Homo sapiens: one gene and its partner. Changing the gene in region 1 together with any one later gene gives a genetic interaction. Each region holds a gene or a part of one and is shown on either strand. Other genes may lie near its edges. The genes, in order: STRAP and SMAD7.

Evidence for each region.
Region 2: of STRAP (region 1) and SMAD7, changing one enhances a phenotype caused by changing the other (phenotypic enhancement), as found in Homo sapiens cells (one study listed by BioGRID).

What each region holds. Positions count from the first base shown.
Region 1 is NC_000012.12:15,884,325-15,892,728, reverse strand, and holds part of STRAP (serine-threonine kinase receptor-associated protein), read right to left. Parts: intron 2,802-8,404; coding exon 2,720-2,801; intron 2,133-2,719; coding exon 2,060-2,132; intron 1-2,059. UniProt on the Homo sapiens protein: The SMN complex catalyzes the assembly of small nuclear ribonucleoproteins (snRNPs), the building blocks of the spliceosome, and thereby plays an important role in the splicing of cellular pre-mRNAs.
Region 2 is NC_000018.10:48,947,179-48,955,421, forward strand, and holds the start of SMAD7 (mothers against decapentaplegic homolog 7), read right to left. Parts: upstream 3,788-8,243; 5' UTR 3,247-3,787; coding exon 2,634-3,246; intron 2,156-2,633; exon of another isoform or gene 2,051-2,155; intron 1,260-2,050; coding exon 1,206-1,259; intron 1-1,205. UniProt on the Homo sapiens protein: Antagonist of signaling by TGF-beta (transforming growth factor) type 1 receptor superfamily members; has been shown to inhibit TGF-beta (Transforming growth factor) and activin signaling by associating with their receptors thus preventing SMAD2 access.

The DNA of each region.
Region 1 (8,404 bases):
ACTTCTACATGCAATGGAGAATAAAAAAATCTGCAAATGCGCTTTGTTTCCTCACCTTAAAAATGTTTTCATAACAAATTACTGTAACATTAAAATGTAAAATATTTTAAAAAGTTCTCAGAAATGGAAGGTATCTCAAGAGAATAACCGCTTAATTTCCAATGTGGTTCTGACTCTCTTATTACTCTTTAAAATTTTATAGATTTATGACTACATAAATGTCCACATAATAAAATCTGAAAGATACCAAATATATAATAAAACAAAATTATGTTTGTCATGTTTTGGTAGCTAAGTATATATATGGTGAGGGAAATTATTAAAATATTATAAAATAAACATGTAGACTGGGGAAGACACCTATAACTTCTGTAAAATGAGAGAATGCATAAAGAATTTCACCACCAAAATGTTAAAAACATATATACCATAAAACCACCTTAACAAAATTTAAAAGCAAATGATAAATTAGAATTCAATAAAGAACCTTTAAAAACCAGTAAGAAAAACATGAATAACACAACAGATAAATGGACAAAAGGTAGACAGGCAATTATTCCATAAAAAAGGGAATATATTAAAATGGTATTCAATAGCATTTTAATCTCATGAATATTCACATTAATACAACAGAATTATTTTCTTAAATTGACAAAGAGAAAGTTAGTTATCAGTGCTCACTAGAACATGTTGGGTATAGATACATACATATATACCCATACTTTGTTGGAAGACACTTTGGTAGTATCTATCAATGGCTTCCAACAATTCATTTTTTTTTTTTCTTTTTGAGAAGGAGTTTTGCTCTTGTCCCCCAGGCTGGTATGCAATCTCGGCTCACTGCAACCTCTACCTCCCGGGTTCAAGCGATTCTCCTGCCTCACCCTCCTGAGTACCTGGGAATTACAGGCGCCTGCCACCATGCCCAGCTAATTTTTTTGTACTTTTAGTAGAGATGGGGTTTCACCATGTTGGCCAGGCTGGTATTGAACTCCTGACCTCAGGTGATCCACTCACCTTGGCCTCCCAAAGCACTGGGATTACAGGCGTGAGCCACTGCGCCCGGCCACCTTCCAACAATTCCACTCCTCTTTGTCCCACCAATTCTACTTTTGCTTAGTTATCTTAAGGAAATCATTGTGAAAATATTTGCAACTGTAAGGATGTTTAGCATAATACTGCTTTTCATATTTAAAATCTGTAAGTAGCCCAAACGGGCCAAAACAGGAAACTAGTTAATTCACTTATGATATAACCACAGGATGGAAAACCAGAAAGTCATTACAAACAGTTCATAGACTATTTAGTGAAATGAAAAAACTGTAACTGCAGATTTTTTAAAATTCTTTCGAATAGCTAATATATTTACATGGTTCAAAAATCTAAGCAATATGTGCACACAACTGAGAATTCTCACCATCACCAACTTCTATAAATAACCAATCTTTCTTACCAAAAAATAGTAACACTGTTCTGCACTGTTTTAAAACTTAATGATAAAAATTTGCCATAATAAATTTTCAGTTTGGAAGAAGGTTATACAATAGCAACATAGCAAATAAACTTATTTTTTAAAAACTGTGCAGAAAAAAAGACTGAAAGTTTATAAACCAAAAACTGATGAATTACGTTTTAATTTTCTTCTTTGTTGACTATTTTTTTTTTTTTGAAACTGAGTTTCACTCTTATTGCCCAGGCTGGAGTGCAGTGGCGCAATCTCGGCTCACTGCAACCTCCACCTCCCGGGTTCAAGCGATTCTCCTGCCTCAGCCTCCCAAGTAGCTGGGATTACAAGCGCCTGCCACCATGCCTGGCTAATTTTTCTATTTTTAATAGAGACGGGGTTTTGCCATGTTGGCCAGGCTGGTCTCGAACTCCTGACCTCAAGTGATCCACCCGCCTCAGTCTCCCAAAGTGCTAGGATTACAGGTATGAGCCACCGTGCCCGGCCATGACTATCTTTATTTTCCAAATTTGAGTACTGAGCATGAAATTCTTTAATCAGTTATTTAAATTAAAAGAAAATAAAACTAGAAGCTGATGTTTAAATTATGCTTACCTGCTTCAGGTTTGTTCAAGTCATATATGCGTAACAGTTTATCCTGTCCCCCGGTTAACAAATAATTACTATCCTGAAAACACAAAGTAAAATGTGAATAGATTAACCATTTTAATAGTTATTTCTCTTTCAAATTTCAACACCAAATAAAATCAAAATCTAGCTCACAGACATCACAAAGAGATGCCAAGACATAACCAATTACTTCTGAGAAGATACTGTGGAACAGCTGACCTCTCATAACTGCCAAGACTTGTAAGCTTTCCACTTCAAAAGCGTTACACTACACTACATATACATGAACTCTCCCATTCTCCCCTGATCCTACTCCTCTCCCTTGTGAGAGGCCCTTTTCTGATTATCTCAAATTTATCTTCTCCCTTCTATTAGTAGTTGGGGAAGGCTACTTGAGCTTTTCAGATGTTTTTTACATGTTGAAGGACTGGTACTCGTTCCACAGTATCTTAAAAGCTTGACAGGATTAACTATGAAACAAATTCATAGAGCTTAATACACAATCAAATCAAATATGAACCAAGAAATAACAAATATTCCACACAAAACATATCAATCAAATATACACACCAATCAAGTATAAAAGCATTATCACACTATGTACCAGCAACTTAACTCGCTAAAATAAATTCCATTTTCTGATACCTGCGTGAAATCCACAGTCTTGACAATGTGTTTATGAGCCAGGGTCATCAATTCATCTCCTGAGACAGCATCCCACACTTTGCTAAAAGTAAAAAAGAGAAAATTAGTAGGATAAATATTACCCAATATATTAAAAGGATAAATACAATTATAATATTGATGAGTACCAAATAAGTTAGATATGTGAAATGTTACATAAATGTATTATAAATCTCCTTTATCTCTAATATCCCTCACAGACTTCATTTGATAAAATATTTAAATAAGCTTAAGGGAAAAGAAATTTCTCTGTAAAAACTTTATAACCAATCTAATTTTCTTTGACAGTGGAAAAGATATGAACAATTTAAGCAAGTAAGATTCATGAACCAACCCATCCTCCTTACTTTTATTTTAGCTGACAGCCATAATATCCCTTTAGCAAGCCTGTCATACATTTTAACCAATTTTTAGTTTCACCATGCCAATTTTTTCTCTATTCTCCACTCAGATGCACAATAAAAAATAAAAATAAATAAAAAAACCAGAAATCCTTAAAAATGTTACAAGGGAATGAAAAGCCTTGGTACAGGCTAAGTAAAATTTTAAATTAAGATAGTGGAGAGACAATGTCCACTTCATCTCTTCTTCAAAGCTGACTTAAAATTTCAAACTCTAGTACAGTTAACTTCCCCCAAACTATCAGCCTTTGATTATATAATGCTAACACTGACTATTTTAATCTTTACATTGTTTTTTCTGTCCCACCCCACCCCAAAATACAAGTTGGTTATAGGTATACATACATTTATATGTGTATGTATATTCTGGGCGGGTAATAGTTGAGCAATACTTTACAAAATTACTCTAAAAGGGTTCCCCCAAATAAAAAAGCTTAAGGAAGGGGGAAAAAAAAGTTGATTTTAGATCAGAACAGGTCAGTGAAAAATAAACAAGAAAACTTTGCAGACAGGGAAAAGAATTGCTAAGAGTGAAAAAGCTATGTTCCATAGAGATTTCCATTTTAATGCAACTGCTATTTATTTTCAGGAACACAGTGGGCAATAAAATGGTAGAGGGAAAAAAATCAGAGAAAAGCAAGATGTATCTTTTCTTTTGCTTACCCCAATACATAATAAAATATATTAAATATATATCATTCTATACTTAGTGCTAAGGCACAAATGGGAGACAAAAAATACCCCACAGTAGGTTCTTGCCATAGTAGAGCTTTAGCTGAGGAGAAAAACATGCATTAAATATCACATTTAAGAAATATAATTAAAAGACATATATATGGCTATAAAAACTCAGAAAAAAGCACCTAGATATTGTCCAGAAAATGTAAGTAACAGAGCTAGCCGTCGGAAGAAGCAAAGAGAAATATATCAGGGGAAAAAGAAGGGAAGGCTATTCTAGATAAGCATTAATAGCATGTGCAATGTGGTTAATGAATATGAAAGACCATCTAACAGGAATGCTCATGATACACTACCAAAGCTTGCAATATTTAATAATGTGGGTCATGTGAGTGGCTGAATAAATATGTTCTGAAAGAAATAATGTCAACTATAAGTAGCCTTGCTGCTAAACTCCCTAGTATTCATTTCTCTTTGCCCAGGAAACTTGCTCCTCTCTCTGTCATTCCAATGCAACTCTCTGGCCCCAATCTACTTTCCCAACCTCATTTTGTATTGTTTCTCTGAATCTAGCAACACTAGATTATAAACCACTCCTCAAATAACTTACGTATTTTCTTCCAGGCTCCTATGTTCTTGTTTATATTATTCTCTTAAGTCTGTATTTTACATTCTTAGCTATTAAAGTTCTACTCACCCTTAGGGCTCATTTCAAATGCTATCTTTTCTTTGAAACTATTTATCCTCAACTCCAATAATTAACCATTCCTTTCTGTTCTCCCACAGAACTCCACTTATTACGGTGCTTAAATTTGCTTTGTTTTTTGTTTACATATATCCTTAATCACAGTGAAATGCATTTCATGGTTGTGGTAAGGGTTCACAAGTATTAGAATGACAGAAAGCATCAAAAGTGAAGAAAACAACAAATGTATCTAAAATTACTATTCTAATTATTCACAAGTCTCCAAAGAAACCCGGGCAATGTCCTTTGATATGCTAATTTCAAGTTTATTAAATAATCTCCCATAAACTTAAAACCTCTCTCTCTTTTTTTTTTTGAGACAGGATCTTGGTATATTGCCCAAGCTATACTTGAACTCCTGGCCTCAAGATCCTTCCACCTCAGCCTCCTAAGTAGCTACAGGCTAACGCCAACATGGCAGCTCTAAAATCTTAAGATTCTGCTTAGACTGTGTCTATTCAAAGGTGAGAAGAGAGTTGGAGTGACCAAAGTAGTAATATTAACCAGAGAGGTAATGTGTCTGTAGTTTTTCCTCCTATTTAGAAACAGTACTAAAATAGAGGCATGACATTTTCTGACAGGGCATGTACTAACTCTGGCAGATTTCCATTATTCACAGTAAGAGCCCTAAAATGGATCTAATCTAAATGTTTCCTAATGTATTATTCAATCTCCAGGCAAGAAATTGACATATATTAGTTGGCCACAGGGCTCAAATCAAGACAGTAAAGCGCTATTAACAATACCCTTTCAGCAGCTAACCCTCCAACATTTTCTTCACATCCCACGAAGTACTTGTCATCTCCTTAAACTACTGTTACCTCTTATACCCCAGTTTCTTGCAAATAATAATGCTGCCTGATACTTTCCATATCCTCAGAATGAACTTACCGTAAGTCTCATAATAGGAGCTGCTTAACTTACTTATTTAAACCTTCAACAAAACAGGCCAGTTTAAGATTTTTAAAAAATTGCCCAAATACCTTAACATGTTGACCAAGTCATCTAGGAGATAATACCATTTTCGATTTATCAAGAACCTTATTAAAACTAAAATTAGATATTTCTATTGGCTTTACAAGAAAGAAAGAGTGATACATTGTGATTACCTATAAATTCCTGGACCCAATCCCAGATCTACTTAAGCCCTCTTGGGAGCACAGCACAGAATTGTCTTTACTTTGGCACTCTTCCCAAATAGATACAAAGAGATGGTGTTTTAGGGACACTGTACTCAACACTGGACTCAATTGCCCGAATTACTCCAAGATAACATTCTACACTAGTCCACAGACCTATTCTGCTAAATTTCTCCACAAGAAACGGGACCAAATTCCACTTCTAAATGACCACACCATAAATGAGTTTTCCAAGAAACGTAAGAATGGAGGGAAAAAAAAATTGTTTCTAAAAATGCTTTATACCAACCATGACTAATCAGGTAGGCTGTGGGGAGTAACTTCTTGGAGAGAATACACACACACACAAACACGCACATGAAAACACGCTCCTACACCCCACAGACAAGACATAGAGGAAATGAGGGATAAATCTCAACTAGCATTTATTGAGCACCTACTATGTGACAGAGATCATATTGGACTTCAGGGATATATGGTGGAGAAAGATCTCTCTGTTCCTCCAATAATCTCATGGGTCTTAGTCCCATTTTACAGATATGAAAGCCGACATTTAAGAAACATCCTGCCATGGTGGGCAGATCGCTTGAGCCCAAGAGTTCAAGACCAACCTGGACAACATGGTGAAGCCCATCTCTACAAAAAACACAAAGATTAGCCAAGCATGGTAGTACACGCCTGTGGTCACTATTCAGGAGGCTGAGGTTGGAGAACTGCTTGAGACTGGGAGATAGAGGCTGCAGTGAGCTATGATCACGCCACTGCACTCTAGCCTAGGCACCTAAGACCCTGTTTCAAAAAAAAAAAAAAATCCTATGATGATCAAACTGGAAATACACAGCATAGTTAGCACACGAATGCAAGCCCACCTAGTGCCAATGCTTGTTATTATTTTCCACTCTAACACAGCACCTAAAGCCTTAACTGAGGAGGGGGAAAAAAAAATCACAAAAATCTTCCTTCTTGACATTTAAATCTATTCAATCTTCCTTATATGAGGCCAAATAGTTTGAAGGCTTTAGCCATATTAGTTTCAAAATAATATGTGATTTTGATCAAGTGCGGGTGGTGATAGTTTACATGGTAGCTATCATCGTTACTTTACATATGTAACACTTTCATAGGTGTAATAGACTTCAGGCAATGTTGTAAGTATTCGAAACATATTAACTTATTTAATATTCAAAACCAACCTATGAATTAGGTACCATGACAGAAAAAAAAATGGTTAAATAAAGTGCATGAGGCCACCAATTCAAATTCAGGTCATCTGGCTCCAGCCTTCATGCTCTTAATACACCACTTGTAAACACAGACATTGAGACTTGAAATGTTAAGAAAGCATAAAAACAACACTGTTTCAATAAACAAGAGCATACAGTCACGTATCTGCCACCACAGTCAATCAGCCTTCATTTTTTCATTCTAAAATTGGTATGTTTAATGTACTTAAAATGAAGGAGGCAGCAGATTTACAATTGCTCCTTAGTGTGAGGTTGTTAAAAAAAAAAAAAAAAAAGGCCAGGCACGGTGGCTCACACCTGTAATCCCAGCACTTTGGGAGGCCAAGGCGGGCAGATCACTTGAGGTCAGGAGTTCGAGACCGGCCTGGCCAACATGGCGAAACCCCGTCTCTACTAAATATACAAAAATTAGCCAGGCGTGGTGGCGTGCACCTGTAGTCCCAGCCTCTCAGGAAGCTGAGGTGGGAGAATCACTTGAACCCGGGAGGTGGAGGTTGCAGTGAGCCGAGACTGTGCCACCGCACTCCAGCCTTGGGGACATAGCAAGACTCTGTCTTTAAAAAAAAAAAAAAAAAAAAAAAAACACCACTTGTACTCTCTAGCCTCTTAAGTCTAATAAATCTGTGTATGCACAACAGTTCTTGATATTGCCTTCATCAGTTTAAACAATGAAGTGTCAAATTCCTAAGTTACAAATACCAAGTAGGAACTGGAGATAACAAGATTTATAAAATATGATACATTCCCAAAAAGGCAACGAGGGCCACTGCAAGTCAGTTTAATAACATAATTAACCGCCAAAAGTCAGAACAGGTAAGGTATATTCTGGCAACAATAAGATTAGTATAATTAGATTGTAGGTTTATGGTGTGCAATGGCAGAGGATGATGCTGATGAACTAGGATGAAGCAAACTGTAAAGGGCCAACAATTGAAATGTGTCCTTTAGGTCAGCAATTCTATGACTGCACATCAGGAAAGAAAAGGAAGAAAGAAAAATAAAAAAACACCAATAATCAGTATGACCAGTACTCCATCCCCAGACCAATCAAACCAGAATTTCTGTACCAGGCACAGTAGTTCACCCCCGTAACCCCAGCTCTTTGAGAGGCTGAGGCATGGAGGCCAAGAGTTTAAGACAGCCTGGACAACATAGCTAGATACTGTCTGTATAGTAAAAAGTATTAAAAAATATTTTTAAATGTAGTAAAAAGTATAAAATATAAATATATAGTAAAAAAGTAAAAAAAAAAAAAAGTTTTAAAAATCCGAATTTCTGGGACTCATACCATTTGAATATTTGAAAAGCTCTCCAGATATTCTAATGTACATCAAAGGTCATGAACTACTAAAATGGCAAAGGGAAGACAGGAAGATCATTAGTAGAGAAGTGACATGATCAAGTATGTTTTTAGGAAGACAACTGGCAACAATATGGAA
Region 2 (8,243 bases), on another chromosome or scaffold:
GAAAGCAAAATATCACATGCTTTGCGGGCCACTTATTAGACCGGCACCAGGCAAGCAGGAACGCCTTCCCAACTTGAGGGAGCTGGTAGAGTCCCAGGAGGACTGGCTGCAGAGTATGGGCTTCGGTTACACGTTCATTAAAGTATTTAATTTATGACAACGCCCCAGCAAAACTTTTAATTAGTGGGGGGAAAGGCCCAACAGCCAAAACGCAGGAGGCGGAAGGACTTGCAGAATTCCAGGAGCTAAATGGTGCCCAACCCTTCACTTTTCCTTCTCCCAGAACCTTGGCAAAATAAAAATGTCCCAAGTATTAATGTTTTTTTCAGGCACCAGTATACAGGCACAAAAACCAAGGTTACATACAACCTGTACTTTTAGCAAACAGATCTATCTCCTACTGTAAGAGGGAGCTCCAGGAATTTGGGTTTGTCCTTGTTGTCACCCCCAAGTTCATTTTGCTGACCCTGTCCCCAGCACTGTGATGTCCAGAGGATGGACCCCTGTGCTGCTGCCGGCCAGAAGTTGAATGCAGACAACCACAACAGGGCTGGTGCCAGTCTCAAATGGGCTTCTGCCATGGCTTCATGCCAGCCAGTGACAAAGCAGCAGACAGGCAGAGCTATGCTTCAAACTTTGATAGTCCCTATGGCGAATACTGAGAAAACCCCGGGAGAGGACTGACTTGCAGGTGACTGGAGCAGGAGGAACCTACCCCCCCCCCCCTTTTACTGGCTGTTGCCTATACTTCTGAAAAGTTCTAGTGTCTACTCCAGACCAAAGTCTTCTTTGCACCTTTTTAAACCGTCTTCCCATCTATCGAATCACCCTTTCCATTATTCCCACTGATGCTCCTGGCACTCACTAAGTCTCCGAGTTATCCCCATCAACCAGTCCTATTTGGTTCCCAAGACACTTCTCTCTGGACTAAAGCTTCCACGTGTTAAAGCTGAGCCCACCGGCTACACAGCACAAATACATGAAAAAGGAACAAAATGTAAAGCATATCAAGGGAACGTCTTTGCAAAAACAGCAAAAAACCCAGCCACAACAGAAAAATTCACCAAACTTCCAACAGAGGAAACCTAGAACCAACGTGAAGCCCAGCACCTCCCCAAGCCTTTGCCTACACACAAAAAGCCACGTTCTAGAGGCTCTATTTCTAACTTAAGATAAGCAGGATATTTTAAAAATCATCTACTCACCAGTTGGTTTGAGAAAATCCATCGGGTATCTGGAGTAAGGAGGGGGGGGAGACTCTGAAATTAAAAAAGCAAGAGAAAATAAAGGCCCAGCCATGAGAAGAGAGATAGAAACTTATGATAACAGAGGCATTCTTTTAGCCCAACTGTTTGTCTTAGCTGTGGGGGTTGGAGGCAGGGCCGCGAGGCGGTGATTGCCTTGATATTTAGCTGTCAGATAAACAAAAGAGGCCGCCTGGCGCCAGCCTCGGCGCTCCGCTCCTCCACGTCTGCGGCCGCAGCCGCCGCGCTCGGCTGGCCCGGCTGGAAACCACCGGCTCGGCCGGAGCCGCGCACTTCACAGTTCACAGGGCGGGGGGCGACCATGCCCCCTCCCCGTCCTCGGACTCCAGACCCAGCTCCCAGCAACCTCGGCTCCCCGCCCCGGCCCGCCCCCCAGGCGTGCAATTCACCTCTGCCCCCGCCGGTCCGCTCGGCACTCGCGCGGGGGACACGGGGCTGCCCATTCCTAGCGCACTCGGGAGATGCATCCCAAGCGTGCTGGGGAACGTGGGGGATCTGCGGGCGCCCGGGGTGAACCCTCACATCACACTCTGTGTACAGAGACGTAGAGTAAAGGAAGGAATGGAGAAAGCTGAGAGGATAAAAGGAAAGGAGTTTCAGGGTCTCAGCCGAGAAGCCCAGGCCCCAGCGCAGTAAGAGGCGACAACGTCACTGAGGCGCCGGGGCCCCACTAATCTACAGACTTATCTGTGCGGAAGGAAGGAAAAAGTAGGGGACACCCAACTTCTCCTGCCTGTTTGTTCCTCTGCACCCTGGGGCTGGCAGAGTTGAAAGGAGACAGATACCCAGTTCGGCCTTCCATCCAACTCTCTTTGCCCCAAAACTCCAAAGGTGCGCGGCCACGACAGTATCTGGGCCACTGGTGTTCGACGTGATTCTCCGTATTTACTAAAGGAGTAAATACGGAGACCTTCCAGCCTTTATAGCACGCCTCTCCCAGCCTTCCTTGGCGGGCCTGGACCAAATCCAACTCGGCCACACACCTCAACGTCTTTCCGGGTGCGGGGAGGCGTGACCCCCCCACCTCCCTCTGCACCCCCTTGTTGATCCGGAAATGAAGGCGTCTAATTTTTAACCGCAGACTGCAGGAGCAGTGCCCGTAGACCCCTTCGGGGCAACACAGGAGAAAACCTGGAAGGGAACCCCCAGGGAATGCCCTTTGAGTTTCCCCTTGTCCCTTCTCTACTTTCAGCCCCCAGTCTCTTCCCAGGAGGGTATGCACACTCTCCCAGGAGGGTATGCACACTCTCCCAGGAGGGTATGCACACTCCCCCTGGAGGGATGGCTGCACAAACGCACTGCCCTAGGGGCTTTTCTTCCAGCACTGGCGCTCCGGAAAATGTTGGGGGTAGGGGGACAACTTCTCACCTAGTTCGCAGAGTCGGCTAAGGTGATGGGGGTTGCAGCACACCAGCTCGGGGTTGATCTTCCCGTAAGATTCACAGCAACACAGCCTCTTGACTTCCGAGGAATGCCTGAGATCCGGCCACCTGAACACTTTGCACAGCAGGAGGGGGAGCGAGTAGGACGAGGGCGGCTGCGCAGGCTGCGCGCCGGCGGGCGCCCCCGGGCCCAGCCTGCAGTCCAGGCGGCCGGGCAGCAGGAGGCACGCGGTGCGCGTCCCGCCGCGGGACTCCACGGCCTGGAGCAGCAGCTCCAGCTGCCGCTCCTTCAGTTTCTTGAGCACCGAGTGCGTGAGCGCCTTCAGATCCGCCTCGGCGCCCCCGGCCGCGCCGGCGCCCGCGGCTGGCGGGTGGGGATGGTGGTGACCTTTGGCACCTCGCACCGCCTTGCCCAGGCAGCATCCAGCCCTGCCCGGGCCGCCGCCACCGGCCCCATGCGCTCGGCTGTCCGTCGCCCCTTCTCCCCGCAGCTCGCCTCCTCCTCCACCTCCCCCTGCGCCCTCCTCCTCGTCCTCGCCGCCGGGCGCACGGCTCCTCCAGAGACGCCGGACGAGCGCAGATCGTTTGGTCCTGAACATGCGGGGCGAGGAGGCGAGGAGAAAAGTCGTTTGCCTGCTAAGGAGCGAACATGACCTCCGCACACCATGAAGAAGTCGGGCGCCGAGTTGGGGCAGCAGGCGCAGGCGACAGCAGCAGCAGCAGGGGCCCGGGCAGGAGCGGCGGCGGCCCGAGGGGCGCTCCGTGGCATGCGCCAGTCTCCCGGAGGCCGGGGCGCGCGCGGGGGCCCGGGGGCGCCCGCCGGGGATCGGGGGCCTGCGCTCCGGCTGCCCCACCCCGCGCGGCCCGCGCCCTGCGCGGCTCTCCGGCCCCGGCGCGCCCCGGAGGAACCCGGCCGCCGCTTCCCTGGGGACGGCCGAGCCTGCCCCCGTCGGCGCCTCCCCAAAAAGAGGCCCCCCCGCAGTGGCTCCCGAATGTCGGGCTCGCCAGCCTCGGCTTCCTACATGGAAGGTCCGCGGGGGCAAAAAACGAAAGGCGTTCGGCTGGGCTGTTGGAAGAAGGAAAAAGCCTCTTTCCCCCTTGCTAAGCAACTTAATTTGGGGGTGGGGAGAAGCAGGCAATTAAAAAAAAAAAAGCAAGCGATTTATTTTTTTCCTCTATATCCTTAGTAACCGGATCTCCTCGAATTCCGCGCACACGAAGACTCAGGGGAGGGGGCCGAGTGGACTTCACCCCGCATGAGACGTCTGGCAAAATAAGAAGGCTCTCGCAAAACCTAACAACCAAATATGCAAAGCCCCAAATGAAAACCACCACCTCCTCGAACCTCAGAGGTCTGGGGGCGTCCGGCTGGAACTGGGGTTTAAAAAAAGAAAATGTTTACAAAGTATAACAAGATGTTTGATGGGTGGAAAAATGTATCCACGAGTTACATCCCCCCGTTTCCTTGCAAAGCCCCGCTGGTCTTCCTCTCCTTTTCTTCTGCCAAAAAAAAAAAAAAAAATCGTGTATTTTTTTAATCCACAGAAAGCTTTGGCTAGACCGCTTCAATCCTGCGCATCTGGGTGGTTTAGGGGAGTCTCTGGTCTTTCCCCCTGCGCTCCTGGGGGCCCAGGTCCTCGGCGGGGACTTCCTCGAGGCTGGCGCGGGCGCAGGGGCAGAAGATGCTGCGGCGGCGGCTGAGCCCGGCGGGGCTGACAGCGCGGGGGAGGGTGGCGCGGCGGCGGCGGAGGGCCCCAGACGGGTCGCGCGTTCTCGCCCCCCCCGGGCACAAGCTGCTTGCTAGTGCAGGGGCCGCCGATGTCCCTTCCCCTGGCCGCGGCTGGCCGCCGAGGCTCCCCGCATGGGCTGCTCGCCTCGACCCAGCTGCGGCGGCAGGAGGCCCCGGTGTCCTCTCGGCGCCTCCTCCTCCGAGACTCTCCTCGTCGCGCCCGGGAGCCTCCTTGTCCCCGGTCCGCCCTCTCCTGGCGCTCCGGTCCTTCTGCCGCCGCCAGGGGCTCGCCGCGCCGCACTCAGGGGCTCAGGGGCCGGGCGCTCGGCGGCTCGGCGCCGACGGACTGGCTCTGTCTCGGGCAGCTCTCTCCCGCGCGGCGAGCGGACCGAGCACGGCGCCCGGCTGGCTCGGCTGGCGCGGCTCGGGGACAGGATCTTCCGTGCGCCGAGCAGCAAGCGAGTGTGCCCGGGGCTCACCGCCTCCCGCAAGGCCTCCCGCCCCCGCCCCCTTCCCTCCCCCTTCCTCCCCCTTCCCTCCCCCGCCCCCAGCCGCCGCAGCCGCGCCGCCTCCTCCCCGCCCCCCCGCACCCCCCCTCCGGCCCTCTGCTCGGCTGGTTCCACTGCGCAGTGGCGCGCCCGGCTCCGGCCTCGTCACGTGGCCGTCTAGACACCCTGTCGCTTTAAAAAAAAAAAAAAAGCGATTGTGTTTCGCAAACAACAGATCGGGTTTCTAAAAGCTATTTCTCCCCCCAACCCCCCGCCACCGCCACCCCCTCCCGGGTCTGTAGAGGGGGTACCGATGGAGGGGAGAGAGATAGGTGGGGGGCAGAGAAGCTCCCAGAATGGATTGAGCCCCGGCCGGAGCCATGGAGAAATTGGAAAAGCAGGGAGCACCGAGCGGGCTTCGCCGCGAGTTTTGGAGCTGAGCGAGCGGGTCGGTGGCCCGATTTCGACCCGGCTGGGTTTCGCGGTGGCCATCTCGCGCGCGCTCGCCCTAGCGCTTCATTCATTGGTTTTGTTTTAAAGGCCCTGGCGGTGGATCCCTTGGCCGCGCCCGAGGGCAAGGGGAGGAGAGCGCTGTCTCGGTTTAAAAGACATTTATACCGGACTGGACCGAGGCCCTGGGAAGTGTGCGCTGAGGGGAACAGCCGCCGAGGGCGGGGAGGCGGCGTGAATATGACCTCAGCGGCGGCCGCGCGCTCCCTCCCGCCCTCTCAGCTCCGGGCTCCGGTTTCTAGGACTGCCTGGAGAAGTGTGTCTTGTGCACAGCTCTGGAATGCATTTGGCCGGCTGACGAGCTGTGAGGGGCAGCATCCCGGCGGGAGAAGGGGAGCGGGGGTGGGGGCTCGCCTGCGCGCCGCGGGCAGGTTTCCTCCCGGGCCCGGAAGACCTCCGCCACCCGCCACCCTGCCTCCCGGCGCGGGAAGGTTACCCAGCGAGCAGACCTGCCTAGGGCATTCATTTGCATGCAGGCCCTGTTTCTGGGCCTCGTAGCTTTCAAGGTGCTTAGAGTCAGAGAGTTTATTCCTTGACCCCAGGTCCCGAAGAAACATATACCCAAGCTGGCGGGTTACTGCATAGAAACGGGCATGGCATTGCTAGGGCATAAACGCATTTACAGCGTGAAAGCTGATGGCTCCGAGAAACGTAATGATTTAAATACACACACATCAGTATTGATGAGGCCACTAGTTGGCATGGTGATCTAACCTCACTTCATATTCAGTGAAATACGATTTTTTTAAAAAGCCATTGAGAATTGTGAGATCAGGCCAGCAGTGAAACTCGTTGGGGGCTTTAAAGAATCTTTTTTTCTTTCTTTCTTTCTTTTTTTTTTTTTTTTTAGAGTCTCACTCTTCACCCGGGCTAGAGTCCAGTGGCTCGATTTCGGCTCACTGCAGCCTCTGCCTCCCCAGATCAAACGATTCTCCCACCTCAGCCTCCGGAGTAGCTGGGACTACAGGCGCGCGCCACCACATCTGGCTAATTTTTGTATTTTTTGGTAGTGACGCGGTTTAACCATGTTGGCCAGGCTGATGTGGAACTCCTGACCTCAAGTGATCTACCTGCCTCAGCCTCTCAAAGTACTGGGAGTACAGGCGTGAGCCACTGCACCTGGCCTTAAAATAATCTTTAGAAAAGGTGAAATGTGCCCAGGTGCGATGGCTCACGCTTGTAATCCCAGCACTTTGGGAGGCTGAGGCAGGTGGATCACCTGAGGTCAAGAGTTTGAGACCAGCCTGGCCAACATGGTGAAACCCGTCTCTACTAAAAATACAAAAATTAGCCAGGCGGGTGGCGCGCGCCAGTAATCCCAGCTGAGACAGGAGAATTGCTTGAACCCGGGAGACGGAGGTTGCAGTGAGCTGAGATCGCGCCACTGCACTCCATCCTGGGCAACAGAGTGAGACTCTGTCTCAAAAAAAGAAAAGAAAAAAAGAAAAGTAAAGATGAAATGTACATCTTGCCGGCTAAATTATATGTTCTTAAAAGGAAAAGGCAGGAATGAATCTTAGCCGCCTTTAGAGCTCAAGTCCTCTCCCCCTCTAGCAATTAAAAAGATTTCTAACATATTAGTACAATAGTAGATGCTTAATAAATATTTAGAAATCAACACTTAGGGCTTAAGGGGCATTTGGACCCTTCCTCCACCCCACCAAAAGTACCTTTGGTAATATAAATTCAAGAGGAAATCAGCAACATTGCTTACATGATCATTTCCAGGCAAGGAGATCCTAACACTTATTGACTTGGAAGATAGTAGGATGCCAAGCAGTGCAGAACCCTACTGGACGGACAGAAGCTGCCATTCTGAACATTTACTGTGTAAGGCCACATAAGCTGCAGTTGTATAACATCATAATTTTGTTGTAAATTAAAATATGGCTTGTATAAAAGGGCATTGAAACCTTGTGTGTGTATTAAAAAAACATTCTAAGAAGCAACCTGTGAAGACAGCAGCTGAGAAAGCACAGGAGAGAATGGAGAAGGAGTGTAATCCCAGCACTTTGGGAGGCCTATCATGATAGGCAAGGGAAGACGAAAGAGACAGAAGTGGGATTTTTTTTTTTTTTTTTTTTTTTGAGATGGAGCCTTGCTTTGTCACCCAGCCTAGAGGGCAGTGGCATGATCTCAGCTCACTGCAACCTCCGCCTCCTGGGTTCAAGCAATTCTCCTGCCTCAGCCTCCCTAGTAGCTGGAACTACACGTGCACTCCACACCTCGCTAATTTTTTTGTATTTTAGCAGAGACAAGGTTTCACCGTGTTGCCCAGGCTAGTCTCGAACTCCTGAGCTCAGGCGATCCACCCGCCTCAGCCTCCCAAAGTGTGGGATAACAGGCATGAGCCACAGCGCCCGGCCCAGAAATGGGATTTTTAAGGTGTCTGGGAAATGTATCATATTTTCACCTTAGAAAGGCTTAGAAAGAGTACCAGACTAGAGGTCAGAAAACCTGATTCCAGGCTGGGGCGTTGCCGCTCACTGGTTAAGCAACTAGGGCCAACAGCAATCCCCACGTTAGGCGAGCACTTGGCAGAGTTTATAAGATTTTCTGGGCAAGTTTCCGCTCTCTAGGGTCCCATTCCCTCTCTGTTCTGGATCTCCCTAAAAGATCTTCACTTATTGAGAGTGGTCAGACCAGGCTTCATAGCAACAGAAAGGACTTAAATAAGCAGAGAAAGTAGAGGTCATAATTCTAATTCAGTTTCTTGGCTAAATGGAGAATCTGAAGAATCTTTTGGAGATCTGGCCAGTAGTGCTAAGGCTCTGTAATGAGAGGCCGGAGCACACACAGGGCAGGTAGGTTTCATGGGTGTTTCAAGAGTGGAGTCTGACGTCACGGTTTGTCTGGGTGGAACATGCAT